Regions from separate parts of the Homo sapiens genome. Here regions 1, 2, 4, 5, 6 and 7 are each linked to region 3. Evidence: fine-mapped expression QTL. A gene starts in region 3. Each other region holds a variant in brackets. All regions are shown on one strand. Distances are from middle to middle. Region 1 overlaps GNA12 (G protein subunit alpha 12). Region 2 overlaps GNA12 (G protein subunit alpha 12). Region 3 holds the start of GNA12 (G protein subunit alpha 12). Region 4 overlaps GNA12 (G protein subunit alpha 12). Region 5 overlaps GNA12 (G protein subunit alpha 12). Region 6 overlaps GNA12 (G protein subunit alpha 12). Region 7 overlaps AMZ1 (archaelysin family metallopeptidase 1).

The links.
Region 1: its variant is fine-mapped to the expression of GNA12 in whole blood (INTERVAL, PIP above 0.99).
Region 2: its variant is fine-mapped to the expression of GNA12 in whole blood (INTERVAL, PIP above 0.99).
Region 4: its variant is fine-mapped to the expression of GNA12 in whole blood (TOPMed, PIP above 0.99).
Region 5: its variant is fine-mapped to the expression of GNA12 in whole blood (INTERVAL, PIP above 0.99).
Region 6: its variant is fine-mapped to the expression of GNA12 in whole blood (TOPMed, PIP above 0.99).
Region 7: its variant is fine-mapped to the expression of GNA12 in whole blood (TOPMed, PIP above 0.99). The same link has a PIP of 0.9 or more in lung.

The regions. Positions count from the first base shown.
Region 1 is chr7:2,774,933-2,779,145 of GRCh38, reverse strand. The region is part of intron 2 of GNA12 (G protein subunit alpha 12); the gene reads left to right. Among named protein-coding and RNA genes, the nearest start is that of GNA12, 67 kb to the left of the region's middle. The variant G/A (reference allele first, on the strand shown) is at 2,243.
Region 2 is chr7:2,739,257-2,743,469 of GRCh38, reverse strand. All of the region lies in intron 2 of GNA12 (G protein subunit alpha 12), which reads left to right. It also overlaps a transcript of AMZ1 not described here. Among named protein-coding and RNA genes, the nearest start is that of AMZ1, 53 kb to the right of the region's middle. The variant C/G (reference allele first, on the strand shown) is at 1,855.
Region 3 is chr7:2,841,865-2,846,077 of GRCh38, reverse strand. It overlaps GNA12 (G protein subunit alpha 12), which reads left to right and starts at 1,770. Exons shown (of 4, transcript NM_007353.3): 1 at 1,770-2,225. The coding sequence starts at 1,917. RefSeq lists enhancers at 1,277-1,406, 1,389-1,683, 1,646-2,463 and silencers at 1,577-1,906, 2,247-2,296.
Region 4 is chr7:2,767,211-2,771,423 of GRCh38, reverse strand. All of the region lies in intron 2 of GNA12 (G protein subunit alpha 12), which reads left to right. Among named protein-coding and RNA genes, the nearest start is that of GNA12, 75 kb to the left of the region's middle. The variant C/T (reference allele first, on the strand shown) is at 1,971.
Region 5 is chr7:2,752,030-2,756,242 of GRCh38, reverse strand. The region is part of intron 2 of GNA12 (G protein subunit alpha 12); the gene reads left to right. It also overlaps a transcript of AMZ1 not described here. Among named protein-coding and RNA genes, the nearest start is that of AMZ1, 66 kb to the right of the region's middle. The variant TA/A (reference allele first, on the strand shown) is at 1,660.
Region 6 is chr7:2,732,971-2,737,183 of GRCh38, reverse strand. It overlaps GNA12 (G protein subunit alpha 12), which reads left to right. Exons shown (of 4, transcript NM_007353.3): 3 at 3,683-3,733. It also overlaps a transcript of AMZ1 not described here. Among named protein-coding and RNA genes, the nearest start is that of AMZ1, 47 kb to the right of the region's middle. RefSeq lists an enhancer at 2,458-3,445. The variant GTC/C (reference allele first, on the strand shown) is at 1,728.
Region 7 is chr7:2,719,007-2,723,219 of GRCh38, reverse strand. It overlaps AMZ1 (archaelysin family metallopeptidase 1), which reads right to left. Exons shown (of 7, transcript NM_001384743.1): 7 at 3,537-4,213. Among named protein-coding and RNA genes, the nearest start is that of AMZ1, 33 kb to the right of the region's middle. The variant G/T (reference allele first, on the strand shown) is at 2,104.

The DNA.
Region 1 (4,213 bases), 67 kb after region 3:
CTCAAGTGATTCACCCGCCTTGGCCTCCCAGAATGCTAGTATTACAGGCAGGAGCCACCACGCCCAGCCTCAGCTAATTTAATTTTATTTTTTGTAGAGATAGTCTCACTGTGAAGCAGTCTTCTTGCCTCGGCCTCCCATAAAGTTTATGTATTATTCCTGAAAGAAGGCTTACAGTTGAAATAATTCTGGTTAAATATAACGTACCCTTAATCTGAAAGTTTCAAAGGGTGGTAGTATCAACCCCATTCCCCATCCACTTTTACCAGATTTCAACAAATTTAATCAGCTTCCACAAGAACTGAGTAAAGCCCAGGGAATGAGAAGAGCCCTGGACTCTCACCATTTTCGCTACATATTATTGAAGCTTCAGTCCTTAGCTATCAAGGAAGGCGGTATTAATACCCTCCTTTTAGACTGACTCTGAGAGATGTGAAAACATCTAGCACCATGCTTAGCAAGTAGTATTTGTTTACCTACCTGGCTCTCTGATTTTGAATTTCTTTTGTGCTCAGCAGTGGGCTATGAGCTATAGGAGGAACGATTTTCTTCCATTCATCTCCCTGAGAGCCAGGGGTCTGAACTCCTGAAGTAGGGGCCTGTATTACCCAACTTGTGGAGAGATGATCACAATTTAGCCTCCAGCTCTATGTAAGTAGGGAGCTGTTGGTGTGAGTGTCATGGAAGAAATCAGACTTTAACTTGGGTGGTTTTGAATGAAAGATGAAATTCTCAAAAGAGATAGGAGGGAGGTGGCACAGATGGGCTGATGCAATCCATAAGTGGTGATCGGAGACTCAGAAGCCAGCCTGCTCTTGTGAAAAAGCAAGGCCTGCCCTATTCTGGCTGTTCTTAGGAGAGGTTTTGTGAGAATTTTGCGTTTAAGCCAAATGAAATGCTTGATTTATTAAGTTGTTATGACTTTTTTCTTTTCTCTTTTTGAAAAAATTGTGGCGAAATATGCTTTTTTTTAAGTCTCTTCTCACTAAACCTTCTAGCAGACCAGTATTAACAACTGGACACATGTATCCCAGCGAGTCTTTGGAAAAGACTATGCCGCTAAGGCGGCATAGTGTAGCTCGTGTTTGAGCATTTCCTCGGAGACATTCCTGTGATGTGAGTGCAGTTGTGATTTGCTGTTTGGTAAATAGGAGATTGAAAGGCCCTCCTCTTCTGAAGTTGGAAGACATCTTTGCTGGGATCACCAGGGACACCTCACAAGTTTTAGTTGATCTTTTTAAAATTTCCTTGCTTATGAGTTCAAGGTTTAGAAACAAATCTGAGTTTATTTATGAGCCTTTCACATCTGAGTGGGCAGATTCCCCAGGAGTAGTATTTTCATCATGTTTTCTGTCTTAGCTGGAGCTGCCATAACAGTTCCACACACTGTGTGGCTTGAAAACAGACATATATTTTTCACAGTTCAGAGGCTGTGAACCCAAGATCAAGGTGCTGGCCGGTGGGGTTCCTGGTGAGGGCTCTCTTCCTGACTTGCAGACAGCCACCTTCCTGCTGCTTCCTCACATGGTGGAGAGAGAGAGAAGCTCTGATGTCTCTCCGTCTTCTTATAAGGGCACTAATCAGGTCATGCTCCCACCTATGACCTCTTCTAACCCTAATCACCTCCCAAAGACCCCACCTCCAGATACCATCCCACTGGGAATTAGGGATAGGAATTTGGGGAGGCACAGCCATTCCATTCATAACAGTGTTGTGATATTGTGAAGTATACATTTGGTCTTCCTTTCCATTTCCAAACATATAGCTTCGCCCTTTCAGGCATCTGGTATAATTGAACTAAGAGACAATATCATCTCTTGTTTTGAAGCTGCTTTCGAGGTATTAATATACCATTGGATTTCTATCATATGGCCCATTTATTCATTCCGTTACCCTCTGCTACTAGTCCTCCTTTTCTTCATTTATACCCAAGCGTCCACGTTTGAAAGGAGCATTAGGTTCAGTCACTGTGCTGGTCTGGATTGCAGGCAGCAATAACCTAGCCAGTGTCTCCCCTCAGTCCACTCCCATTCAGATAGGGTAGGGCTACACAGGTGCAGGACTAGGGGGCTGTATTTACCACCAGGAAGTACAGCTGCAGTCACCGTGAACCCCAGTTCTCCCAGATGGGGTAAAGGCACAACCCACCCCCATCAGGTCCTTGGAATTCCAGTGTAAGGTTTATTCTTATTTTATTATTGAGACAGAGTCTCTGTCACCCAGGCTGAAGCACAGCTGCACA[G/A]TCACAGCTCACTGCAGGCTTGAACTTTCAGGTTCAAGTGATCCTCCCACCTCAGCCTCCCAAAGTCCCTGGATTACAGGCATGAGCCACCTCTCCTGGCCCCGACGTAAGGTTTAAAAACAGTACAGTTTCTTGCTTAGGAACCAGCTCTGCTTCCAGCACTGGGGTTGCAAGACCTGGTCCTAGGATCACTGCACCAAGTGGGAGCAGGGTGGCCAAGCTGAGGTGATGCAAGGAAGGAAGAAAAATGTGTAATCCTTATGCCAGCCTGCTCCTCTCTCGGCAAGAATTGTGTGGTCACACCAGCCTCCTTCCCAGCCCCTCTTTCCCTGATCCACAAAACAGGAACATCGAATGGGGACGTCCTTTAGCCGTTGAATGTGGGCCAGCCCTTCATGCTTTCATCGCCCCTGTCTTAGCCAGGGTTTTAACTCCCCGTTCCGCTGCTCTGTCAGACTCACTCCGAGGAGGATGCGTCTCTGCCCGTTGTTGGACACCGTGGGATGTACAGTGTGTCCCCTGGTCTGAGGAAATGACGGTCGGTGTCCAGATCCGAGCAGTGTCTTCTGTTCTGTTCTTTCTATAGCACTCTGAGCACTGGCCTCTTCCACCAGGCAAGCAAAGCCCAGTCCAGAGTCAGTGTTCACTCTGGTTAAGACCCATTTGTTGGCTGGGCGCGGTGGCTCACACCTGTAATCCCAGCACTTTGGGAGGCTGAGATGGGAAGATCACTTGAGCCTAGGAGTTAGAGACCAGCCTGAGCAAGGATTGCTGAAGCCCAGGAGGTTGAGGCTGCAATGAGCGGTCTAACCTGGATGACAGGGTGAAACCCAGTCTCATAAAAAAAAATCAAAAGACCCATTGTTAGCCCCCAGGGCTATACTTGCCAGCTGTGTCCAGGGCCTTCCCACCAGGGGAGCTGCCCCATAGCCACCGGCAGTTTCTGTCTCTCCAGCTGGCAGGCAGAATGGCTGCATTAAGCCTAGCTGTACGGACCTTTTCCACAGTACGGGTCTGGGCCCTGTGCCCCTGGGTAACCTGTCCAGGTAGTGTGAGGGATGAAGGGAGGGGAGGACTCTGCCAGCTCTGTGGGAGGCTCCTTAGGTGATTCTGAGCCTGGCCTGTATTGAGAGCCACTGATGAGCCTCTGAGGTCTCTTCCACTTGTGACGTGATTCGGAGCCTGGCCCTCTGCTTTAATTCATAGGCAGAGTTTGATGGCAGATATCTTCTCCTAAGAAAGCCCGTCACGTTAGAACAGGCTGTTGGGTAGGACACAGGCGTTTAGTATCCAAGTTTCGCAGATGCCCATAGACCAGGCAGCTCTGTTTTGCTTCTGCGTTTATGAAAAGAGCTGGCAGAGTGCTTCGGCTCCAGGCCTTTTCGAGACACTGGGCACGACGTTCCTCCTGAGCTGCTGTGGCTGAGATAGAAGGGATCAGCAATGGAGGCTTTATTTGCAGATGATTTTCCTCCTCTCGGTTTGTCGTTCCCACTCTTCGTCTTCCAGAACCTTTTTAGACCCCATGACTTCAATCCTCATCACCCAGGACATTCAGGCTGGCTCTGTCTCCTTCCCATCAACTTAATATGACCGTATCTAACCCTAAATGAGGCTGCAAAATTAAAAGCAGCATACTAGCACCAGAGAAAGGATATCTTAAGCCTATTCAAATCAAACCTCAACACCCTGGAAGCTGGCGCAGCGGCTGCCTACAGAAAGGAGAGCTAGGGAGCTGAGACACTGGTTTCTCTAGCGTCCTCCTCCCCTGTTACGAATTTGGTACTCTGTGCATGTATTGTCTATCCAAAAACTTGAAAGATGTTAGTCATCCTCAGTAGAGGGGAAGTAACTCATCACATAGTGAAAAGTCCAAATTGTTTAACTCTTTAAGCCACGTCTGGTGCCACCAAATTGGGAAGGGATGTCGGTAAATTAAATTGTGCAATTCATACTCTTTTGAGAATATTA
Region 2 (4,213 bases), 100 kb after region 3:
AGTCTGTGTCAAGCCATCCCAGTATCTGGGATATTTGAGTTGATAACTTCTGATTGTTTTTGCCCCTGATGATGAATATCTTCCATATTTTGAATAATTTAATTATATCTTGGGTATTATGGATGTCGTTTTAAGACTTAAATCCTGTTCTGTTCATCCATCTAATGTTGATATTTTTGCTTTAGCAGACATTTAACTTGGTGAGACCCAAACTGCCAACTTGGTCATGCCTGTGCTGGTGGTTGCTTAGATCACAGCAGAGACCCCTTTCAGTTTGCCCCCATATATACGGTTCAGGGGCCAGCCAGGCTCTTAGGCAAAGTTTATGCACAGAACTTGAGGTCTCCCTCACTGACTCTTTTCTTTTTGGAGTGTTCCCACCTTACCCCTTGGCAGTCCTGGTTGCCCCAGCTCTGTCCTCTTGTTCTCCTGGCCAAAAAGATGGTAGGCTTTCTGTCTGAATGTTGTTGTTGCCACACACCACCATGCCTGTGGCTCACAGGTGATGTGAGTGTGCACCTGGAAAATTGAGAAGAACCTACAGGTCTATTATTAGAATGAATACAGAGCTTAGCAGGGTGACTAGGCACAAGCCAATATACAGAAATCAGTTGTATTTCTATTCACTAGCAACAAAGGATTATAAAATGGGAAATGTTTAAAGATGCCATTTAAGAAGCACCATAAAAGATTACATACCTGAGAATAAATCTAAGGGAAGATGTGCATCACCTGTGTACAGAAAATTTATAAGCATTACCAAGAGGAATTAAAGGCCTCATTCAAAATCAAAACTCTGCAGGTGTTTGCGGGGACAGGGAGGGTAGACATTGACAGCTGACTTTAGAACTAATATGGAAACGCAAAGGGCCGGCGAGACTCAGTGCTTTCTTCACTTTGAGCACCAAAGTAAGCGAGGACAGAGATGAATTACAGCCCCTGGAAAATGACAGCGTCTGTGAGTCCATGTGGACAGCGATGAGATAAACAGGAGCAGGGCTCTTGTTGACAGTGGAATGTCACTCACAGACCAGCAAGCATGGAGTGGCACTGACTGGAAAATCATCTCGAAACTGTCATGTTAAACACTGGAGACATCGCAAAAACCCCAAGGGCCGTGGGAGGCAGCCCTCTTCTTCAAAAATCTCAGTGTAGGCTGGGCGTGGTGGCTCACACCTGTAATCCCAGCACTTTGGGAGGCTGAGGCGGGCAGATCACTTAAGTTCAAGACCAGCCTGGCCAAAATGGGGCAAAACCCTGTCTGTAGTAAAAATACAAAAATTAGCCAGGTATGGTGGTGCACCTCTGTAATCCCAGCTACTCGGGTGGCTGAGGCAGGAGAATCTCTTGAACCTGGGAGGCGGAGGCTGCAGTGAGCTGAGATCGCCCCACTGCACTCTAGCCTGGGCAACAGGGTGAGACTCCATCTCAAAAAAATAAAAAAATAAAAAAATTCAAGTGTTTCAGATTAAATGAAACTAAAGAGGCATGATAACTACATGTAAGTAATATACTAAATTCTGTGCTAGAGGAGGGAAATGGTCTTATAATGCTGTATCTGTATATATTAGATAAACCTCGGTGTCTAATACGTGGTAATTATGAGACAGTCATCCTAGATGAATACTCTTATCCTTGCGGCGTTCTCCTGAAGCAGCACCTGAAGTTGCCGTGGTTGTAGAAGCAGGTGTCCTCATTCTTAGGACATACCCTCTGAAGTTGTTAGGGGTAAACAACTTGCTCTCAAATGATGACGGATTTTTAAAAGTCTGTGTATTGAAAGAGAGCGAGCGAAGGATAAAGCAAATGAGAGAAGATGTGAACAGGTGAATCTAGAGAAAGACTGTATGAGCT[C/G]TTTGTACTATTCTTGCAACTTTTCACACATACCTCTGTCCTAGCCCCAAAGAGACTTGGAATTTGGGTTCTGGCTACTACAAAGGCTGGAATTCTGCTGTGAATTTCCCCAAAAAGTAGAAAGCTAACAGGCAGTCCAACTGTGACATGCCTGGTGCCGCACTTGCTGGGTTTTAGAGATTCTGTGGTGGAAGCCTCTGGAAACTGGGTGAGCTCTCCCCACCCCTAGCCCTGTTATTTAGGTTTTTGGGTTTTTTTTAAGAGACAGTGTCTCACTCTGTTGCCCAGGCCTGAGTGCAGTGGCGCAATCATGGCTCACTGCATCCTCAACCTCCTGGGCTCAAGTGATCCTCCCACCTCAGCCTCCCAGGTAGCTGAGACCACAGGTGTGCGTGCCGCCACACCTAGTCTAGGTGCTTTTTATCTAGAGGCAGGGGAATACCTTAAAACATACTGTAAAATTTCTTTCTAGCTCATTTTTCTATGATGATCCCTGTGATACAAATGAAGAATCTAAATCTATAGTGGTTTTTTGTTTGATTATTTGTTTGTTTGTTTGTTTGTTTGTTTTGAGACGGAGTCTCGCTCTGTCGCCCAGGCAGGAGTGCAGTGGCCCGATCTCAGCTCACTGCAAGCTCTGCCTCCCGGGTTCACACCATTCTTCTGCCTTAGCTTCCTGAGTAGCTGGGACTACAGGCACCTGCCACCACGCCCGACTAATTTTTTTGTATTTTTAGTAGAGGCAGGGTTTCACCATGCTAGTCAGGATGGTCTAGATCTCTCGACCTCGTGATCCGTCCGCCTCGGCCTCCCAAAGTGCTGGGATTATAGGCATGAGTCACCGCGGCGAGCCCTAAATCTGTAGTTTTAAGGGCTGAATCTATAATTTGAACTATTAAACATCTTATGAAACTGTTTAAGAATGAGCCCAACAGATACTCATAAACCCATTGCCCAGTATTAACATGTTGTTTACATTTCACCATCTTTGCCTCTGACAGATGAAAATCCACAAGTTCATAATTATATTTGTCGGCTCAAGCTGCCATAACAAAATACTCTGACTGGGTGGGTTAAACAACAGAAATTAATTTTCTCACAGCTCTGGAGATTGGAAATTGAGGATCTGGGTGGCAGCACCATCAGGTTCTGGTGAGGGAGGGCTGTCTTCCTCGCTTGCAGACGGCCAGCTTCTCACTGTGTCCTGGTGCCTCACATAGGACGGAGTGAGAGGGAGAGCTCTCCGGTCTCTTCTTATGAAGGCACTATCGTATCATGAGGTCCCTACCTTCAGTCACCTCCCAAAGTCCCCATCTCCAAATACCATCACACTGCAGGTAGGGCTTCCACATGGGAATTCTGGGAGCATACAAACATGCAGTCTATAATGATGATACAAATAGAACCACCTAGAAAAGATCACCAGGAAATGCCAGAAAACCCAGAAAAGATCACACTGGAGTGCCATTTCACAGCTAGTAGGATGGCCACCGTTTTTAAAAATCAGAAAACAGCAAGTGTTGGCAAGGATGTGGATAAATTGGAAACTTTGTACATGGCCCATGGGAATGTAAACTTGTGCAGCCGCCGTGGAGAACAGCTTGGTGGTCTTCAGAAAATTAAGCACAGAATTACCAAAGGACTGCCGGGCACAGTGACTCACACCTGTAATCCCAGCACTTTCAGAGGCCAAGGCGGGCGGATCACTGGAGGTCAGGAGTTCGAGACCAGCCTGGCCAACACGGTGAAACCCCCGTCTCTACTAAAAATACAAAAATTAGCCAGGTTTGGTGGCGCACGCCTGTAATCCAGCTACTTGGGAGGCTGAGGCAAGAGAACTGCTTGAACCAGGAGGCAGAGGTTGCGGTGAGCCAAGATCGCACCACTACACTCAGCCTGAGCAACGGGGCGAGACTCCATTTTAAAATAAAAAAAGAACTACCATAGGATGCTACAGTTTCACTCCTAGGTGTATACTCAAGAAATGAAAACAGATATTCAAGCAAAAACTTCCACACAGCTGTTTGTAGCACTGTTCACAACGGCCAAAAACTGGAAACAAAGTGTTCATCAACTGACAAATGGAAAAACAAACCACATATCCATACAATGGCATGTAATATACATATATATATATTGGCCGTAAAATGGAATGTTGCACTGGCCTGTGCCACAGCATGGGCGAGCCTCGGAAATGCCGCACCAAGTAAAAGAACCAGACACAAAGGGCTGCATGCTGTGTGAATGCGCTCCAATGAGAGATCCAGAACCGGCAAATCCATGGAGACAGAAAGCAGATTCGTGTTGTCAGGGTCTGGGCCAGGGCAGTGGGAGTGGCGGCTGATAGGCTGTAGAAGTG
Region 3 (4,213 bases):
CCCTTGACCTCCTGGGCTCAAGTGATCCTCCCACCTCAGCATCTCAAACTGCTGGGACTGTAGTTGTGAGTCACCGTGCCCAGCCTTCTGGGGAGTTTAGATCTGTGACTAAGCAAAAAGAACAAATCTGGAGGCATCACTTTACCTGACTTCAAACTATACTATAAGGCTATCGTCACAAAAACAGCATGGTACTAATATAAAAATAGGCACAGAGACCAATGGAACATAATAGAGAACCCAGAAATGAAGCCAAATACTTACAGCCAACTGATCTTCAACAAAGCAAATGAAAACAAAGTGGGGAAAGGACAGCCTATTCAGCAAATGGTGCTGAGATAATTGGCAAGCCACATGTAGAAGAATAAAACTGGATCCTCGTCTCTCACGTTATACAAAAATCAACTCAGGATAGATCAAAGACTTAAATCTACAACCTGAAACCATAAACATTCTAGAAGATAACATCGGAAACATCCTTCTAGACGTTGGCTTAGGCAAAGACTTTGTGACCAAGAACCCAAAAGCAAATGCAACAAAAACAAAGATAAATAGATGGGACTTAATTAAACTAAAAAGCTTCGGCACTGCAAAAGAAATAATCAGCAGAGTTAACAGACACCGCACAGAGATTGGACTTTGGGGACTCAGGGTAAAAGGTGGGGGGTGGCGAGAGATAAAAGACTACACACTGGGCCAGGCGCGGCGGCTCACGCCTTTAATCTTAAGGGATACCTGAGCTCCTTCTAGGAGGTTCTGATTCAGTAGATCTGGGAGAGTCAAGAATCTGTAATCAGCTGATCTCTATCAAGAGCTGATTTTGGGCTAGCTCACGTGCTAAGTGTTTGGTAAGTTCATGTTCTCAGTTTATATCTTCATGACGATTTGAGCAATGTCAAGCCATAACCAATGTCGTCAATGACACCCCCGTTTTACAGATGAGGAAACGGAAGCTAAGAACATCCAAAAGGGTTTGTTGGGGGGGGTGGGGAAAGCTGCTAAAAAAAGTTATGCAACTAGTACACCTAGTAACTGGTCGACTGGAGATTCCAACTCAGGCCCAGCAACTCCAGACCCCACTCTCTCAATCACTGTGAGACATAAGACTTTTGGGGGAGCTTCTGGTGATTTTAGTGATTAGTCAGCTTTTCGCAAAGCCTCCTAGAAGCCCATGCCACTCTCAAAGGGTGCATGTGTTTGAAATTTATGGCCCATCCCCCTCCAGTGTTTCTGGAAGGAAAATAGTGTAGAAACAAGATCATCGGAGGGAATACGACGAGCAGCTGAACCTCTTATCAGCATTTCCCAGCCTTTGGGCTACTCCGCGAGGTCCTGGTCTCACAGGCGGACCCAATCTGGGAACCAAGGGAGAATCTTTCTGTACACCTGGCACTTCTCGTCACGCCCCGTCCCCCGAACACCCAATCCAAAGCCCGTTGGGCACGTCTGATGTCCACTCAGAGCAATTATAATTGGCCATGGCGGACGATCGCTCCGCCTCCCGGGCGACCCCGCCTCCCTTTCATTCTGAAAGAAAGAACCTCAGCCTGGGCGTCCAATGAGAAGCGCCTTCACCTCAAAGATCCCGCCTCTTTCGGCGTCGACCCCGCCCCGAGGCCGGAAGGGATGCCCGCCTCCCTTGGCGAGATGAGCCAATCGAAGGGCTCTCACGGCCAGATGGACGGCAGCCGGCCCAATCCGCCGGGCCTCACGCGGCGCCGCCCGCCCCTCCGCCGGGCCCGAGTGGCGGCCGGGCGACGAGTGCGGGCCTCGGAGCGACTGCAGCGGCGGCGGCGGACGCGGCCTGAGGCGAGCGGCGGGGCGTGGGGCGGTGCCTCGGCCCGGGCTCGCCCTCGCCGGCGGGAGCGTCCATGGCCCCCGGGCGCCGGCGGGGCGCGGCCGCGGCCTGAGGGGCCATGTCCGGGGTGGTGCGGACCCTCAGCCGCTGCCTGCTGCCGGCCGAGGCCGGCGGGGCCCGCGAGCGCAGGGCGGGCAGCGGCGCGCGCGACGCGGAGCGCGAGGCCCGGAGGCGTAGCCGCGACATCGACGCGCTGCTGGCCCGCGAGCGGCGCGCGGTCCGGCGCCTGGTGAAGATCCTGCTGCTGGGCGCGGGCGAGAGCGGCAAGTCCACGTTCCTCAAGCAGATGCGCATCATCCACGGCCGCGAGTTCGACCAGAAGGCGCTGCTGGAGTTCCGCGACACCATCTTCGACAACATCCTCAAGGTGACGCGCGCCCCCCGCCCAGCACCTGCACCCAGGTGGGCCGGGGCGCTAACCCCCGCCCCGGGCCCCTCCGTGGTCCGCCGCCGCGGGCGGGGACCCCTGGGGCGAGGATGCTGGATCCAGCCCCGCCTGCACCCCACTCCCCCCCGACCCATTCCCCGAGGCCTGCTGGCGTCGTCTCTGCCCCACCCCGTCTCGCCCTTTTTGAGATGGGGTCTCGCTGTGTTTCCCAGGCTTGAGTGCAGTGGCGCCCTCACAGCTCACTGCAGCCTCGACCTCCCAGGCTCAAGCCCTACTCCCTCCTTAGCCTCCCGAAGTAGTGGGATTACAGGCGCGCACCACCAGCCCAGCTAATTTTTAAGTTTTTTTTTGTAGAGATGGGGTCTTGCTGTGTTGCCCAGGCTGGTCTCAGTCTCCTGGCCTCAAGTGATCCTCCTGCCTTGGTCTCCCTCAAGTGCTGGGATTATAGGCATGAGTCATGGCGCCCGGTCTGCCTCTGCCCTCTCTAGGGTGCCTGGGGACCGTGGGAGTGGGAACTCGGGCCAGCTTCTGGGGATGGGGAGTGGGGGCTTGGCACTTAGCCCCCTCCTGGATGTGCCCTAGCAGAATGGTATCTGTCCATTTCCCACTGGAAGATTTGTGGGATAGGAGCCCAACCGGCCGTGCCCTCCGGCTGAGCTTAGAAGAAGAGCAGTGGAGACTGGACGGGAACCAGCCATGAGTCTCTTTTTACTTTTCTGTTTTTTTAGAAAGGCTCTCACTCTCTTGCCCAGGCTGGTCTCAAGCCATCCTCCCACCTGGGCCTCCCAAAGTGCTGAGATTACAGGTGTGAGCCACACTTTCTAATACGAAAACTTCAAATGTATACAAAAGTAGAGAAAATAGTAGATTGACTGTAAAGTACCTACAGCCCAACTAAAGCAGTCATCAATTCTGTGCCAATCCTATTCACCTGTGCCCTCCCCATGGTCTCCAAGCAAATCCAACTTTGTGTAGTTGGATTAGGAAACGTTTTAGGATGTATATGAGTGGCTAAAAGATGAGGCCTCCATGTAAAAACACAACCGCAGTACCATTAGCAAACCTAAACATTAGTAATAGCTCATTATCACCAGATATCCAGTGTTCAGAATTCCTCCATTGTGGCATAATTGTTTTGTGTGACTCGACATGCATTGCAATGAATCTCCAGATTCTCCTGTCTCTTGCTTCCTTTTTTCTCTTCGCCATATTTGTGAAAGAAGCTGTAGAAGTCGGCCAGGTGTGATGGCTCGTGCCTGTAATCCCTGCACTTTGGGAAGCTGAGGCAGGAGGATCACTTGAGGCCAGAAGTTTGAGACCAACCTGGGCAACACAGCAAGACCTCAGTGCCACAAAAATGAACACATTAGTTGGGCATGGTGGAATGCACCTGTAGTCCCAGTTGCTTGAGCGGCTGAGGTAGGAGAATTGGTTGAGCCTGGGAGGTTGAGGCTGCAGTGAGCCATGTTTGGGCCACTGCACTCCAGCCTGAGTGGCAGTGAAAAAAAATAAAAGAACCATAGAGTTGATAAAGTCGGGGTTCCAGTCTCTCAGTACCGTGAGCCTGTGTTAAAGGGCCTCAAGGAAGATCTGGAGGAAACTGATGATGAGGGAACAGTGCAGCCTTGCTTACACCTAGATAGCGTCCTTTGTCCTCCCTCCCTTTTTCCTTCCTTCCTTTCCTTCTTTTCTTTCCTTCCTTTCTTTTCTTCCTCCCTTCCCTTCCTTCCTTTCCTTCCTTTCCTTCCCGCCTTCCTTTTCTTCCTTTCTTTCTACCTTCCTTCCTTTTTTCTTTTCTTCCTTCCTCCCTTCCTTTCTCCCTCCCTCCCTACCTCTCTACCCTTTCCTTGTCCCCTCACCACTTTTTCCCCAGCCCATTTTGGGGAAACCAAGTTAGAGGCGAGGACAATCATCTCAAAGCAGAGTCGGAGAGAAGTTTGCCATGCCAGAAAACCTGCCTGGAGACT
Region 4 (4,213 bases), 75 kb after region 3:
TTGTTTGGGTGTTTGCTCATGATCTTGGCTGTTATGATGGTCCCACAGCTGTATGCATATGTCAGAAGTCATCAGACTGGGCAAGTTCACTATGTGCGGTTTCGTTTTTTTGGTTTTTTGGTTTTTTTTGAGTGGCAGGGAGTCTTGCTCTGTCGCCCAGGCTGAAGTACAGTGGCGACATGTCAGCTCACGGCAACCTCCACCTCCCAGGTTCAAGCGATTCTCCTGCCCCGGCCTCCCGAGTAGCTGGGATTATAGGTGCCTGCCACCTCACCTGGCTAATTTTTGTATTTTTAGTAGAGACGAGGTTTCGCCATGTTGGTCAGGCTGGTCTTGAACTCCTAACTTCAAGTGATCCACCCACCTCAGCCTCCCAAAGTGCTGGGATTACAGGTGTGAGCCACGGCGCCTGGCCTTTTCTTTGATTTTAATAATTTGGTTTACTAAGTCTGTTCCCTGTCCATTTGCTCTGCAAGGAGTCATCAGAGCCTGGCGCTTGCAGTACCCCCAGGTCCACGTTTAGATGATCTTAAAACATTGCCATAATCTTGCACGATGGCCTTGCACTTAGGCAGTGCCAGTATTCCTATGGTATACAGTGAAGGGGCATTCGGTTTCAGTAACTCTGATTTGTAATCGTCCTACGTGGAAACACAAAGCAACAAGCACAGGATCCCATTAGCTCTGCTGCCCAGTGAAGCATCCATGTTGCTTTGTTTTTGTTTGTTCTTTTTCTTTCTTTCTTTCTGTGTGTTGTTTTGTTTTGTTTTGTTGTTGTTATTGTTGTTGAGATGGAGTCTCACTATGTGGCCCAGGCTGGAGCTCAGTGGCTTTTCACAGGCACGCTTATCGTAGCTCACTGCATCCTCAAACTCCTGGGCTCAAGAGATTTCCCCCACTTCAGCCTCCTGGGTAGCTGAGACTACAGGTGTGCACCACCACGCCTAGCTAACTCTAACTTAATCTAATGCCAACTCCAATGGACAAGCATTGCCCTGTCACAAGCCTAGCTGAACTATGTCAGAATTGAACTCTTTGAGCTTGATATGGTTCTAGAGGCTATTGAGCCTCAATTTGAGCCTAAATTTAAAATTGTGTGATCATTTAATTTAATTTCCAAACGGGACATGTTTATAAATAAAACAAGACCCTATTAAACAATTTTGCCAAGATGATTGACTCAAATTGGGACTCTCCAGGGCAAGTGGGGCATATGGTTATCCTGTTTATAGTATATTATGGCAGTGAACCTCAGTAAAGTCATACATTGTAGGTTTGTTTATTTGTTGCTATCTATGCAGTTGAATAATGTTGAGGATATATTTTATTTTCCTCACAGTACCAGGCCAGTCTATAGCTTGAATTGAATCTTAGCTCTGCATGTCACTATGATCTATTTTATTGTAACTTCCTATTATAAACCTTTAATTTTATAAAAGCAATTTTGAAAAAGTACTTGCCCCCCCATGATTTAAAAAAACAAAAACACTTAGACTTAAAATGTAATGACATATCACTTTTCACCCATCAAATTCAGAAAAAAATTCAATTGATAATATCCAGTGTGTTAAGGGTATAAAGAAGTGGGTATCTTAAACCCTTGTTCATTAGGATATAAATTGGTACAACCTTTTTGGGAGAGAATTTGGCCAGAGCTGTGTTTTTTTTGTTTGTTTGTTTTTGTTTTTTCTGAGACAGAGTCTCACTCTCTCACCCAGGCTGGAGTGCGGTGGTGCGATCTCGGCTCACTGCAAGCTCCACCTCCCGGGTTCGTGCCATTGTCCTGCCTCAGCCTCCTGAGTAGCTGGGACTATAGGCGCCTGCCACCACGCCCGGCTAATTTTTTGTATTTTTTTTAATAGAGACGGGGTTTCACCGTGTTGGCCAGGATGGTCTCAATCTCCTGACCTCGTGATCCGCCGACCTCGGCCTCCCAAAGTGCTGGGATTACAGACATGAGCCACCGTGCC[C/T]AGCCGGCCAGAGCTGTTTTAAAAAATTAATATGGATACTCTTTGACCTAGCTGTTCTATTTACAGATACCTAGCTTACAGACATAATTATACATGTCCCAGAAGTGGTGTGCATGAGGATGGTTTCTGCAATGTTGATGGTAGTAGCAGAAATTAAAACTACGTAAATACCTGCCAGTGATGCTGTTTAAGTAGAATACCAGATGGCTATTAGAAGGAATGAAGGTCCACACAGAAACAGCTCTAAGGTGGCTGGGCATGGTGGCTCACGCCTGTAATCCCAGCACTTTGGGAGGCCAAGACGGTTGGATCACTTGAGGTTAGGAGTTCGAGACCAGCCTGGCTACCATGGTGAAACCTTGTCTCTACTAAAAATACAAAAATTAGCTGGGTGTGGTGGTGCACACCTGTAATCCCAGCTACTCAGGAGGCTGAGGCAGGAGAACTGCTTGAACCCAGGAGGTGGAGGGAGCCGAGATCAGCCCGGACAACGGAGCGAGACTCCATCTCAAAGAAAAGGAAATATATCTAAGGCATGGTAAGGGTAAAAACCAACTTGGAAAACAATCAATGTGTAGTAGTTTATCCCATTTATATAAACCAAACAAATCATTAAAGTGTAGATTTCTCCACATACAATATACACATATTAAATACAGAAACAAAGGTAGAAAAGTGTATGCCAAGTTGATAACAGTGATTAATAGTTGTGGGAATGAGTGGGAATGAACTCTCCTTTATCCATAGGTTTACTGTTTTTTTTTTTGTTTTGTTTTGTTTTTTTTTTACCTTGAGAGCATATTCACCTGTTACCTAATTTTATAACTGAATTAATTTTCTAAATGTACGTAACTGCATTATAACCATTTTGAAAGAAAACTTATTAGCATTAGGTTTTACTCTAACCTTTGTTTTCCTGAGTGTTACATCCATGATTTTAAGGGCATGTCTCAGGACTCTAGGATGTGATTTCATTTCACGCAGTCCTCGAATGCAGTTAGTGTTTTTCTGAGTTCTCTGAAGCAGAGAAATACTAGGAAAAACGTAGCTTGCTAAGCCAGGACCTCAAAAAGGAAGGCTACTGATCTTCACTGGATGAAGTGACATGACTTTGAAGCTGAGAGATCCAGGTTTGAATTAGCAATTCCTTAGTCACTACATTTGCTGTATTTAAACTTGGAAAACAGAAACCATTTCCGATCACTTATTTGGCAGCAAAACCTAATCTAACTCAATTTGGACTTGTTTAGTAGCAAAGCCTGGCCTCACATACCCGTGGCCATTTATAGTCTCCATTAGGTCTGTAAGCGGTAGCTCATGCCTGTAATCCCAACACTTTGGGAGGCCAAGGCAGGTGGATAACCTGAGGTCAGGAGTTCGAGACCAGCCTGACCAATATGGTGAAACCCTGTCTCTACTAAAAATAAAAAAATTAGCCAGGCATGGTGGCATGTGCCCGTAGTCCCAGCTACACAAGAGGCTGAGACAGGAGAATTGCTTGAACCCAGGAGGCGGAGGTTGCAGTGAGCCGAGATTGTACCACTGCACTCCAGCCCGGGTGACAGAGTGACTCCGTCTCAAAAACTAAAATAAAATAAAATATAGTCTCCATTAGTACAACTGTTCACACACACAAATCTATGTTATTGTAGAAATATTCTCAGATTTTATTTACGATGAGGATTTGGTAATGCATAGCATATGTACCATGTTATCTTTCCAAAATCTGAAAGTTTCTGAATTCCAAAATATATCTGGTGCTAAGGGTTTAAAGGTTAGGAGTTACAATACAAATGAAGAAGTAAAAAACTTGAAACGCGCCAGCCAAGAGTTGATTTTAAATAAGAAGACAGGGAAACAGTTGTTCTTGTGTGTGAGAGAGGGTACTATAAAGGGTATTCATGTCACAGTTGTTGATGGCAGCAAAACACTGGAAATGCCCCCAGGTGGCTATCGAAAGGGTCACATAAGTGATTGTACATTTATTCAGTGGAATGCAGCATAGCTATTTTTTTTTAAGTACCACAACTCTTATACTGTATACAAAAAATAACTCAAAATGGCTTAAAGACTTAAACATAATCACGAAAACTAAAACTCCTAGAAGAAAACATAGAGGGAAAGCTTCAAGATACTGGATTTAGCAGTGATTTCTTGGGTATGATACCAAAAGCCTAGGCAACAAAAGAAAACATAGACCAATGGGAGCACATCAAATGTAAACATTTTTGTGGGTACAGGGA
Region 5 (4,213 bases), 90 kb after region 3:
AGATCACCAGTTTTTCCAGCACCATTTGTTGAAAACTTTTCCTTTCCTCATTTGAGTTGCCTTGTCAATTTTTTATAAATCAATTGGCCATATATGTGGGGGCCTGTTTCTGCACTCTCATTTCTATTCGGTTGATCCATATTACTTTTCTTTTGCCGATGATAAACTCTGTCACTTTCTAGCAAGTTGAAAGTTGGTATTATGAAAACGTTGTTCTTCTTTATAAAATGGTTTGTTATTCTGTGGTGTTTTGAAGAGATAAATTTTAAAATGAGCTTGTCAATTTCTACCAAAAAAAATGCCTGCTGGGATTTGTATTGAGACTGGTATTCAATCTAGATCAATTTGGGGAGCATAAACAACAATGTTGAATCTTCCATTTCATGAATATGACATAACTCTCCAATTATTTAGGTTTCAAATTTTTTGCCCAAGTGTTCTTCAGTTTTCAGTAAAGAAATTTTTCACATTTAAAAAAAATTTCCTGTTTTAGCCAATGCAGTAAGGCAAGAAAAGGAAATGCAGGGTAGACATATCAGAGAAAAAGAAATATGACTGTTCCTGTTGGCAGATGGCACAGAAAATCCCAAGGAATCTACCAGAAAAGTCATAGACTAATGAGTCAGTTTAGCAAGGCTACAGGATACAAGATCCATATACAAAATATAAATTTTACTTCTATAGACTAACAATGACCAATAGACACATGGAAACAAATTTAAGATGCAACACCATTAACAGTCATTTTAAAAATGAAATACTGTGGTGTAAATTTAACACAACATCTAGAGGACTTGTTTGATAAGAAGCACGAAACACTCAAGAAATGAGATCTAAACAAATGGAGGGATGTGCCGTGTTCATGGAAAACTCAGTGCTGTCAAGATGTCTGTTCTCCCCTGATTGATACACAGATTTGACACAATTCCTGTGAAAATCGCAGCAAGATCTTTTGTAGACATGGATGTGATTATTGTAAAATGTATGCGGAAAGGCACTGGAATGGCCAAAAATGTTTGAAAAAGAATAAAGTGGGAGGGGCCACTCTCCCTGATTCCAAGGCCTGTTGTCTCCCTGCAGTGGTCAGGCCTGTGTGGTGCTGGCGCAGGGAGAGACACGAGGTCACTGGACAGACCCGTGGATCGCTCCCCGCCAGCACGCCCGACTGATTGCAGCCAAGGGCAGAAGCAACTCAGTGAAGAAGGAGAGCCTTTTCAACAAAGGGTGCTGGACTGTCTCTGTAGGGAAGAAAAAGTGAACCTTGACCTAAATCTCTTATACAAAATTAATTCAAACTGAGTTACAGATTTCAGTGTAAAGCGCAGAACTCTAAAACTTGAGAGAAGATAACAGTAGAAACTCCTTGGGGCCTAGAACTTGGTGAAGAATTCTTAGACATGACGCCCTAGTGATCCGTTGAAATCAAATTTTGAGAAACGGTCATTTTTGTTTCATCAAAATTTGAAATGTTTGCTCTGCAAAAGTCCTCCTTTTGAGGCAGGGTCTCACTCTGTTGCTCGGACTGGAGTGTAGTGGTGTGATCATAGCTCACTGCAGCCTCAGTCTCCTGGGCTCAAGCAGTCCTCTTGTCCCAGCCTCCCCTAATAGCTGGGACTACAGGAACGCAACACTATACCTGGCTAATTTTTTTTTTTTTTT[TA/A]AAGTAGAGATGAGGTCTCACTATGTTGCCCAGGTTGGTTTCGAGCCCCTAAGCTCAAGGGATCTTCCTGCCCTGGCCTCCCAAAGTGCTGGGATTACAGGGGTGAGCCACCGTGCCCTGCCCAGATCCTCTTAGTAAGAGGATGAAAAGACAAGCTACAGACTGGGAGAAAAGTATTTGCTGACTACATATCCGACAAAGGACTCATTATCTAGAAAACAGAACTCTCAAAACAATACTCACCAGTACGAAAACAATCCAAACAGAAAATAACAAAACATATGAAGTGATTTCACCAAAGAGGACATGCCGATGGCACATAAGCACGAGAAGACATCCAGCCTCTCCAGCCATTGAGTCACTGCCAATTAAGGGAGATGCAGACTCAGACTGCTGTGAGCTAGCACTACACACCTATTAACACAGATACAATAGAAAATAGTGAAAATAACAAATGCTGGTGAGGATACTGAGAAGCTGGGTCTCATTCATCACTGGTGGGGAGGTAAAAGGGTACAACCGTTCTGGAAAAGAGTTTGGCAGAGAGTAACGCTGAACTTAAGGGTTTAGATGTAGATTCTCTGGTCACTGAGCATATCCAAGTGAACAAAGCACCTAAGATGCGCCGCCGGACCTACAGAGCTCGTGGTCGGATTAACCCATACATGAGCTCTCCCTGCCACATTGAGATGATCCTTACTGAAAAGGAACAGATTGTTCCTAAACCAGAAGAGGAGGTTGCCCAGAAGAAAAAGATATCCCAGAAGAAACTGAAGAAACAAAAACTTATGGCACAGGAGTAAATTCAGCATTAAAATAAATGTAATTAAAAGGAAAAAAAAATTAAACATACACTTATACAGCCCGGCAGTCACACTCCTGGGCATTTACCCTAGAGAAATGAAACTTACATCCACACCACACCTGTACATGAATGTTCACAGAGTTTTATGTGTAATAGCTAAAATACAGAAACAACCAAAATGTCTCTAGATTGGTAAATGGTTAAATAAACTGCGGCACGTTCAGACCATGGAATTCTCCCAGCAGTAAAAAGGGGCAAGCTACTGACAGATGCAACAGTGTGAGCAGATCCCAAGGACATTATGTTGAGTGAAAAAAGCCAACTTCCAAAGGCCACATGCTGCCAGGTGCAGGGGCTCACACCTGTAATCCCAGCACTTTGGGAGGATGGCTTGAGCCCAGTAGTTTAAGACCAGCCTGGACAACATAGCAAGATCCCATCTCTACAAAAAATAAAATTAGCCAATCGTGGTGGCATGCACCTATAGTCCCAGCTACTTGGGAGGCTGAGGCAGGAGGATCATTTGAGCCTGGGAGGAGAGTTTGCAGTGAGCCATGATCATGCCGCTGCATTCCATCCTGGGCAACACAGTAAGACCCTGTCTCTTTTTTTAAAAAAAAAAAGCCGCATGCTGTATGGTTTCACTTTAAGTACACTCTAGAAAAGGCAAAACTATAGGAACAGAAAACAGATCAGTGACTATACATTCTAGAGATGGAAATCAGATTCGTGGTTACCAAGGGATTAGGGATGGTGGAAGAAGGAGGATGGCTGTGATTATAAATTGGTAGCACGAGGGAGACCGTTGTGGTGGGACAGTTGTGTCTCTTGATTGCAGTGGTGGTTACACAAATCTAGACAGGTGACAAAGTGCATGGAACCACACACACATTGTACTAACGTCAGTTCCCTGGTTCTGATATTGTACTATAAGAACAACAGATGTAACCACTGGGGAAAATGCATGGCAGGTCCACCTATACCTCTCTAGGCAATCTTTGCAACTTCCTATGCATCTATAATTATTTCAAGATGAAAAGTTACGGCAAAAAAAAATTCACGTTTCTTAGTACTATTAAAAACGGAATTGCTTTTACAATGTTTAGATTCCATTGGGTTATTGGCAGTATGTAAAACATATACTTGATTTTTGTGTAGTAATCTCTTATCTTGTGAATGTGCTGAACTCACGGATTGATTCTGTTGCTAGCTTTTTTATAGCTTCCTTAGGATTTTGTGTTTGAACAGTTAGGCGATCTGCAGATTGTTTTATTTCTTGCTTTCCAGTCCCTGTGTCTTTTGTTTCATTTGTTCGCTTGCTTGCTGTCTTGCTTTTTGCTGTTAGTCTTTCTAACTTAGCATTGACCAGAAGCAGTAAAAGTGGGCATCCTTGCCTTACACCCAGTGTTAGGGTGAAAGTACTCAGTGGTCCACCATGACTTAGGATGTTAGTTGCATGGTTTTCATAGATGCCCTTTATCAAACTGAGGAAGTTTCTTTCTATTAGTCTGGTGAGAGAGGACTTTTTTTTTAAGCCCTGAGCATGTGTTGAATTTTTTCACATGCTTTTTTTCTGCATCTATTGAAACATTCGTATTTTTTTCTTCCTTATTTTGCTAAAATAGTGGCTGTCTTCTATTGACATTTTTTATGTAGTTAGGTTTAAATTGCTAAAGTTTTGTTAAAGATATTGTGTCTTTTCAAGGGGAGAGTTGGTCTGTAATTTTTCTTTTTTGATAATCTTGTCG
Region 6 (4,213 bases), 110 kb after region 3:
TTCTTTGTAACCACTCTCTGGTCCTTGATCTGTCCCTACTTAGACGCTTACATCTGAGACCAATCCACGGTTACCTTTTCCTCTCACTCCCCAGTGGGACCCACACATGGGCTGTCTTTAATGCACACCCTGTCAGTCTGTGACATTGACAGGCAGGAACTGAACCAAGCATGTGGGTAGAAAGGCTCCAATTAGGAGCAGAGGACAAGAGGGAACCAGAGTCAGCCCCTCATGTACTGATCTCGAGGGTCTGGTCCTGTGCAGGGTTGAATGATCTGAAGCTCTTTTCTCGTGGTCCTAAATTAGCTGAAGGAAGTGCGTGAGGCCAGCAGGGGTCTGTGAAGGGGCAGCTTGCTGTGTGCAGAGACAGAGGTGACGGGCGAGGCTGCTGCAGTGCCTGCCTGACGGTGCTGACGGAGTTCTGAGCGGCAGCAAGCCGAGCGTGTGTCTTTCTCCCACCGGAGGTGTGGGTGACAGGTGCTTCCAGAAACTGCTGAAGGCTGCAGGCCTCTGCAGAAAGGCGGTCTCCTCATGGGCGTGTGTCGGCCTAGGTCCTGCCCAGTGTCACGACATCACATCTGCCCGGCTGTGCCCAATACAGGTGCACAGGCCCCATATCAACCTGCTGCTGCTGCTTGAAACAGACAACCCCTCTTTCACTGCCACCAGCCCCTGCTCAGGTTCATCCCTTCTGTTGCTCGTGAGAGGACAGACACATTCGTGGGACAGTTGAGGCAGGGGACAGGCCCCTGTCAGGTGTGTGCTCAGTGGCCGCTGGCCCCAGCCTAATGAAATTCATTTCATTTAATCCGCAAGTCCAAGTTTGTGTTAATCTTGAGTGGTGTAGGTTTTTCACACCAAGGAGAGTCCCGAGAGCCCACTTTGGATCCACTCGTGTTTCTAGATCGTGTGACCGCAGCAGCCGTTGAGAGGACTCTGGGCTCGTCTTGGCAGGCACAGTGCCTCTTTATAAACCCACCAAGCGGTTAATTTCATGTGGACATCTCAGTTTCTGCCACATGCATTTTCTCTAAAGAAATGACTGAATTCTCTTAGTGTTGAAAATGCATGGGATTGTAAACCTGGCCCTTTTAATGAGCTGCTGCTGTAAGACTTGAGGAGTCCGTCGCAAACGATCGTCCCGTGGGCTGCGTGCCCAATCAGCAGGTGCATTGTCCAGTCTCTGTTGGTGAACCGCAGTGCACCAAACCTCAGGGACAGCAAGAGTGCGGATGTGAGTGACAGCGTTCTGGATCACACAGGGTTGCTCTGTGTCCCCTTCTTCCCTCCCCTCCAGCCCCCATTAGAGAGCTTGTGGCACAGTCCCTGGCACCTTACAGTTCAGTGGCAGCTTTCCCACGGACCCCCTGGGCTGTTTCTCGAGATGAGGCCGCCCTGACATGAAACTAGATTTGACTCCTCTCCTCCGCCACTCATGCAAGATGACCGAGAGTCACAGATAAGTTTTCCTGCATTCCAAGTAGTGATACAAATGCTGTGATGAGTTAAATGAGCCATCCTCATTCAGTCATCGTGGAGAAAGCAGCAGTGAGTGTTTGCTGTGTTGTGAAGTGCAGCTGGGGGACTGATTGCAGACTCGAGGGGTGTTTAGACTCACACCGAGGGAAACGTCCCTCCTGTTTTCTGCTTCCCATCGAGCTTGTCCTGATTGTGCCCTCTGTGGTGCTTTTCCCCTTGCGTCCGTACTATCTGGGCGGAGCACGTGT[GTC/C]CAGGGCTTTGTGTCCTGTGGTGATAAGAGCACTGGCTGGGGCATCTGTGCCACTGTGACTCTCCATGCCTGACCCAGCTAGAACCCTGCAGGAGAACTGCCTCTGCTTCCTTCGTGCCTGGTGCCACCACCTGCCTAGAAACGGGCAAGGGTGGCTTGGGCTGTGAGCTGCTGCTACTCTCAGCTCCCTGGGGGAGCCCGTGGCCACAGGAGAGGGAGGGACAGTATGCTGATGCTTCTTGGGCTTGCGTGGCACCTCCCGAGGCCCAGGGGAGGGCAGGAGAGCAGGAGGAGGCAGGAGAGAGAGGCGCTGAGGAAGGAACTTGTCGTAAATCAGGGAGTGAGTGCACCCAACGGCTTCTCCCAGCTGCTTCCTGTCAGGGTGTGGAAGGAGGCATGATGTGCAGAGGACCGGGGGGACTTGGCACAGCCACGGGAAGGCGGCTGCCCCACCGGCCTCACGCTGGCTTCCCACATCACGGGGGCTTGGCGAGGAAGGGAGAGAGCAGGCACGAGAGGTCAGTCGTGCCGGGCCCTTGGGGTACGTTCACCCTGGCACTCCCGATGCCTTCCCTACTGCAGAGCTGGGCCTCTGCCTGGGGCTCTAGAGAGCCGGTGGTCACGAGGTGCACGTGCTCGCCCCGTCCTGCCACAGAGGAGGAGGATGTGTGCTCGCTCAACACAGGCAGTGCTGGGATGGGGAGACGTGTGTTTCTGTCCCCTCAAACAAAACACTCACTTTGAAAACATCCAGAGGCCTTCGTTCTAAAGTAGGAAGGTGGGCTCCTCCCTGAAGGAGCTTCCTCTCTGCTTTCTCCCCTCAGTCTGTCTGGGACAGAGGAGGAAGAGATAGACTGAGCAGGTGCTGGCCGCCTTTCTCCATCCCTTACAACGCCACGAGCTTCAGCGCCATCACGTAGTCCATTCTGATGGCCTTCTCTCCTTAAAATTCTCCTGCGTCAGCTCGCCACATGTGTATGACCTTGCCCCTGTACATTTCCATGAGAACACAGAAAGTGACTGCTCTTCCCACAAGCCCTGATGTCAGGGCAGCCTGGAAGCCTTGACCCCGCCTGCTGGTGTCTGTCTTTAGAGCAGGGTTCAAAGTGGAATCTTATAGAAAGTGGTATAATTGGTTTTTAATACGCTACCTTTGAAGGGACTCATTGCGTGCCTGTTCATATGCGGGCTGCTCTGTGGTCGGTGGTTGCGCTCTCCCGGCTCCTCCCGTGCCCCGTGTGTGCCTCGCATTTGGCGGCTCAGCGCTTCCTGAAACGGGGTCCTGGGTGATTCCGCAGGGCCCTTCGCACTATGGAACACGTCTCAGATTGTATCGATGATTGGTCCAGGCAGGAGAAGACTGGCCATCATTCCACCACAACAATCCAAATGGAAGATTCCCCTGTGTTTGCTACTATAAATCAGGTCATAAAAATGTGGGAAGGAATAATGGACTCTTTCTAGAAACTGGAAGATGTTTTGCTAGATGCTCCTTTTCGTCAGGATGTTTTGTCTTTAAGGACAATGTCTTGGGTCCCTTAGGCCATCTTCGACAGAAGCAAGACTGTACCCAGGAGCCAAAATCTAAAATCCTATTCTAGCCTGTCCTTTGCTGGCCGCATGGCCAGGAGTGGGCCAGCCTTCATGTCTGGAAAGAGAGTCCCCCATCAGAGGGGCCTGCATCGCACCACACACCAAAACCCAGCAGCGAAAATTGAAAAACAGCCAGAATTTGAACCTTGGGGTTGGAGCTAAAGAACCTGCATTAAACATTTTCTTTAATGGTAGTTTTTTTATTTTAGAAAACACACGGACACTCTCTGCCTTTTTCCTTTGCTTTCCCATTCACACGGAGGCGAAATGCCACTGCTCTTACCCTGTTCAGTTCTTGTATTTGCCACATCAGGATTCCTCAGTCCAGACTGAGCTGTGAATATTCTTCCTTCCTGACAGGGGGAGTCGGTGAAGTACTTCCTGGACAACTTGGACCGGATCGGCCAGCTGGTGAGTAAGCACGCCCGCCCGAAGAAGCTGGGCTCCAGGGTTAGAAAACGTGTCCAGAGACCAAAGCAGTCCACGTTGTGAGGACTTTGGCTGGACTGACAGGCCGAGCTTGTTCTGTCACATTACCACGAATAGTACTGTAATGGCACGCTCTCACTTGGATCTGGGCCCCGTCTCAGTGGGGAGGGGAGGAAACTGCCTTTGCCCAGATCACCATAAAGGAGACAGACAGAGGAGTTCATGAGTGAAAGGAGGACTTCCTTTATCTCATGGAAAATTCAAACATACTCAAAAACAAATAGTCTAATGAAACCCCAGGCATGGCAGTTATCACTGATTACCAGTCTTGTTTCAGCAGCCCTCCCCCGGCCTCCGGGAGCAAATGCAGAGAATATTTTAGAGTGTACCTCAAAAAGACAAGACGAAAAATGACAACCGCAGTACCGTATGGCTCCTGAAAAATTGGCAGTAATTCCGTAA
Region 7 (4,213 bases), 120 kb after region 3:
GCCCCCACACAGCCCACAGGCACCGTGGGCTGTACACTCTGTGGTGCTTTCTTATTAGGAGTCAACCTGTTCAATTTTTTTTTCTTCTTTTATAAAATGTACTCAAGTCACATATAATTTCTACACCACTCACAGGTTGTACAACTGCCATGCAAATGCATTTCAGATTTACTTTTTTTTTACACAGTGAACCTTCTTGATTTTTATTTTGTTTTATTTTATTTTACTTTATTTTATTTTAAATATAGGGTCTTGCTCTGTGGCCCAGGCTGGAGTGCAGTGGTGTGATCATAGCTCATCGCAGCCTCAAAACTCCTGGGCTCAAGCAGTCCTCCCACCTTGGCCTTCCAAGTAGCTGGGACCACAGGCATGTGGCCACCACCCGCACCTGGCTAATTTTTAAATTTTGTATAGAGATGGAGTCTCACTGTGTTGCCCAGGCTGGTGTTGAACTCTTGGCCTCAAGTGATCCTCCCACCTCAGCCTTCCTGAAGTGCTGGGATTACAGGCATGAGTCGCTGCACCCAGTCTGGGTTCTTAACAAGCCTATGCAAAATTTAAAATCTCTGTTGCATCTGTCAGTCTCGAATCTCAAAAAATTACCTTTTGACCTGTCAGGCAAATTGGTTTAAAACATTCAAAATGTCCTGGCTGGGCACGGTGGCTCACGCCTGTAATCCCAGCACTTGGGGAGGCTGAGGCGGATGGATCACGAGGTCAGGAGATCGACACCATCCTGGCTAACACGGTGAAACCCCGTCTCTGCTGAAATATAAAAAATTAGCCGGGCATGGTGGCGGGCGCCTGTAGTCCCGGCTACTTGGGAGGCTGAGGCAGGAGAATGGCATGAACCCGGGAGGCAGAGCTTGCAGTGAGCCGAGATCGCGCCACTGCACTCCAGCCCAGGCGAGAGAGCGAGAGTCTGTCTCAAAAAAAAAAAAAAAATTCGAAATGCCCTTTTTCTTAACTCCATTTGAACCAGCTCACATCGATGGGCACAAGCGTCGCCAGGAAATTCAGTGTGGTAAGCTTGGCACCTACTCATGGCCACCGTGTCCTGAACTCCCTTTCCTGTGCTCAGGCCCCAGCCCACGCAGCAGGAGGACACACTGCCGAAGGGACCAGTTGGACGGCCTTCTGGCTTTAGCGCCTGTGCCTTTCAGGACCTTAAATACAGAAAGGAACCGAGTGCTCTGTGCAGCCCCTCCAAGACGGTCGCTACAGCGCCAGCACCACCTGCGCCGGGCCATCATGCCGTGACCGGACTTGGTTTACGAATACAGTGTACGAGGTTAAGATATGATAAAGTGTAAAAATATATGTTATAGCCACGGTGGTTAGTTTAACATGTTTTGTATATATGATTTTTATAAATCTATTAAAATGTGCCTTAAATTACACCTGTTTTCCTGGCGTGTTATGTCCCTGCCTCCCCCGCCACTGCTGAGAAGTGGGGGGCCCCTGAGTGTGGCACCCACCCGCCGCTATCTTTTTTTTTTTTTTTGAGACGTAGTCTCGCTCTGTTGCCCAGGTTGGAGTGCAGTGTCGCGATCTCGGCTCACTGCAACCTCCACCTCCCAGGTTCACACCATTCTCCTGCCTCAGCCTCCCAAATAGCTGGGACTACAGGCATCTGACACCACACCTGGCTAATTTTTTGTATTTTTAGTAGAGACAGGGCTTCACCGTGTTAGCGAGGATGGTCTCGATCTCCTGACCTCGTGATCCACCCACCTCAGCCTCCCAAAGTGCTGGGATTACAGTGACCCACTGCGCCCAGCCCACCTACTGCTTTCAAACAGAAGAATGTGTGTGGCAGTGGATTCTGCAGCATGCGTCGCATCCACGGGCTTCCAGAGTGCGTTCCACCGTGGGGCAAGCACCTTTCCCGAAGCAGAGGCCTCCTCACATCTTCCACACATCTGCGGTGCGCGGCAGGAGAGTGAGGTGAGCGCTCAGCACAGGGCCCGGCTCAGGCCTTAGTCCCTGTGCTTCCACTCCTGAGCTCCACCCTCCCCTGGCCTTTCCATCCCTCCCAGGCACAGGCGTCCTGGGTTGCTCTTCCTCCCGGCATTGGCAGGAACCTCCCGCGCCACCCAGTGT[G/T]TCTTCAATAGAGTCGGTCGTTTTGCAGCTGCTGGTCGCCACCACCAGACCTGTGGGCGTAAGGCAGGCAGCCAGCGATGACAGCCCGCAGGGTCACACAGGAAACATGCTGTGACATTCGTATAAACAGAAATAACGGGCTGGGCGTGGTGACTCACACCTGTAATCCAGGCACTTCGTGAGCCCGAGGCAGTAGGATTGCCTGAGCCCAGGAGTTCAAAACCAGCCTGGGCAACGTGGCTGAAACCCTGTCTCTACCAAAAACAAGTTTTTAGTTAGCTCAGTGTAGAGATACACACCTGTAGTCCAGCTACTTAGGAGGCTGAGGCAGGAGAGTCGCTTGAGCCCAGGCATTTGAGATAAGCCTGGGCAACATAGCAAGACCCCTGTATCTAAAATAATTTTTTTTTTTTAAAGGCTGGGCGCAGTGGCTCACACCTATAATCCCAGCATTTTGGGAGACTTCGGTGTTTCACTTGAGGTCAGGAGTTCAAGACCAGCCTGGCCAGCACGGTAAAACCCCGTCTCTACTAAAAAATACAAAAATTAGCCAGGCTTGGTGGCAGGCGCCTGTAGTCCCAGCTACTTGGGAGGCTGAGACAGGAGAATCGTTTGAACCCAGAAGGCGGAGGTTGCAGTGAGCCAAGATCGCACCACTGGACTCCAGCCTGGGCAACACAGACTCTGTCTCAATAAATAAAAATTCAAAAAAATAATGATCCCCTCCAGCCCCCAAAACACACACTAGTCTTTCTCTTTTTGTCACAGCGCATAAAAAGTGTTCACCCTGACGTGGGGAGACATGGAAACGGGGAGTGAACATTTGTGAAGTGACTCTTCATTTGACAGGTGTTTTAAAAGCCTCCAGCAGTGACTAAGTGTTTGTGGATGGGCGTCCGCGTGGGTAGATGAACCGGTCCATGTCAGCAGAGGAGCCGAGTCTCAGAGGGGAGCCGCGCTTTGCACGGAAAGCTCTGCAGCAGTGCGTGGCAGCCCTGTCGGTAGGTTCCCGTCGGCTCCTTGCCTTCTCAAATGCAAGGAATTGCTTATCGAATTCAACAGACACATTCTCTTTTCATTTAGCCTTCCAGAATTTCATCCTCTTCGTTTAAGCCCTTTTTAAAATTTGGAGTTGAGGCTGGGCACGGTGGCTGACGCCTGTAATCCTGGCACTTTGGGAGGCCAAGGCGGGTGGATCACGAGGTCAGGAGTTTGAGACCAGCCTGGCCAAGGTGATGAAACCCCATTTCTACTAAAAATACAAAAATTAGCCGGGCATGGTGTGGCAGGCACCTGTAATCCCATCTACGTGGGAGGCTGAGGCAGGAGAATCGCTTGAAACTGGAAGGCAGAGGTTGCAGTGAGCCAAGATCACACCATTGCACTCCAGGCTGGGCAACAAGAGCGAAACTCCATCTCAAAAAAAAAAAAAATTGGGGTTGATAGCATTTATTAATTTTGAGAATGAAAATGTAAGATGTAAGCATTATAGAAAAGCTGAGTAACAATTTATTTTGTATATCAAAGTCGTCCATCAGTCATTGCAGTATAAAATGTTCCAGGTGTATTTCCACTTGGACTGGATTTTTAAAAATAACTGTGCCATACAATCGAGCGGTGATCAAAGCTCATGTAATTAGGGCTAAGTCGTTCCCGTTGGGAGAGGCTATTGTGGGACTTGTGCGTCGGGCCAAGGGATGCTCTGGGCTCTGCTGTTGGAGCAGAGGAGGGAGCTCTGCCAGGCGCGCGGGCCTTTGCCCTCTTTAGGCATTGCTCCTGCTTGGGGGTCCGTGACAGACATCAGGTTATGCCATCAAGAGCCCCACGTGAAACAACTGCCTCCAAGTGGTGCAGGCGGGAGAGGCGGCCGGAGGATGGCAGGAATAAAGAGACACCCCCCTTCCGACAGGGGCCACCTGCCGTTCTGTCGGAGGAGTTGGGTTGGCAGCCGACAAAGCTGCTGCCCGCATCCTGCCCATCCAGTAAAGGCCTCGAGCCCTCACAAGGGGGCGCCCAAGAGGACGGCCACCACCCACCCAGAAGGGCACAGGTAGAATGTGGTAGAAGTTTGATCTCACTTCAGATGGGGGGGAAAAAAAAAAAAAAAAGT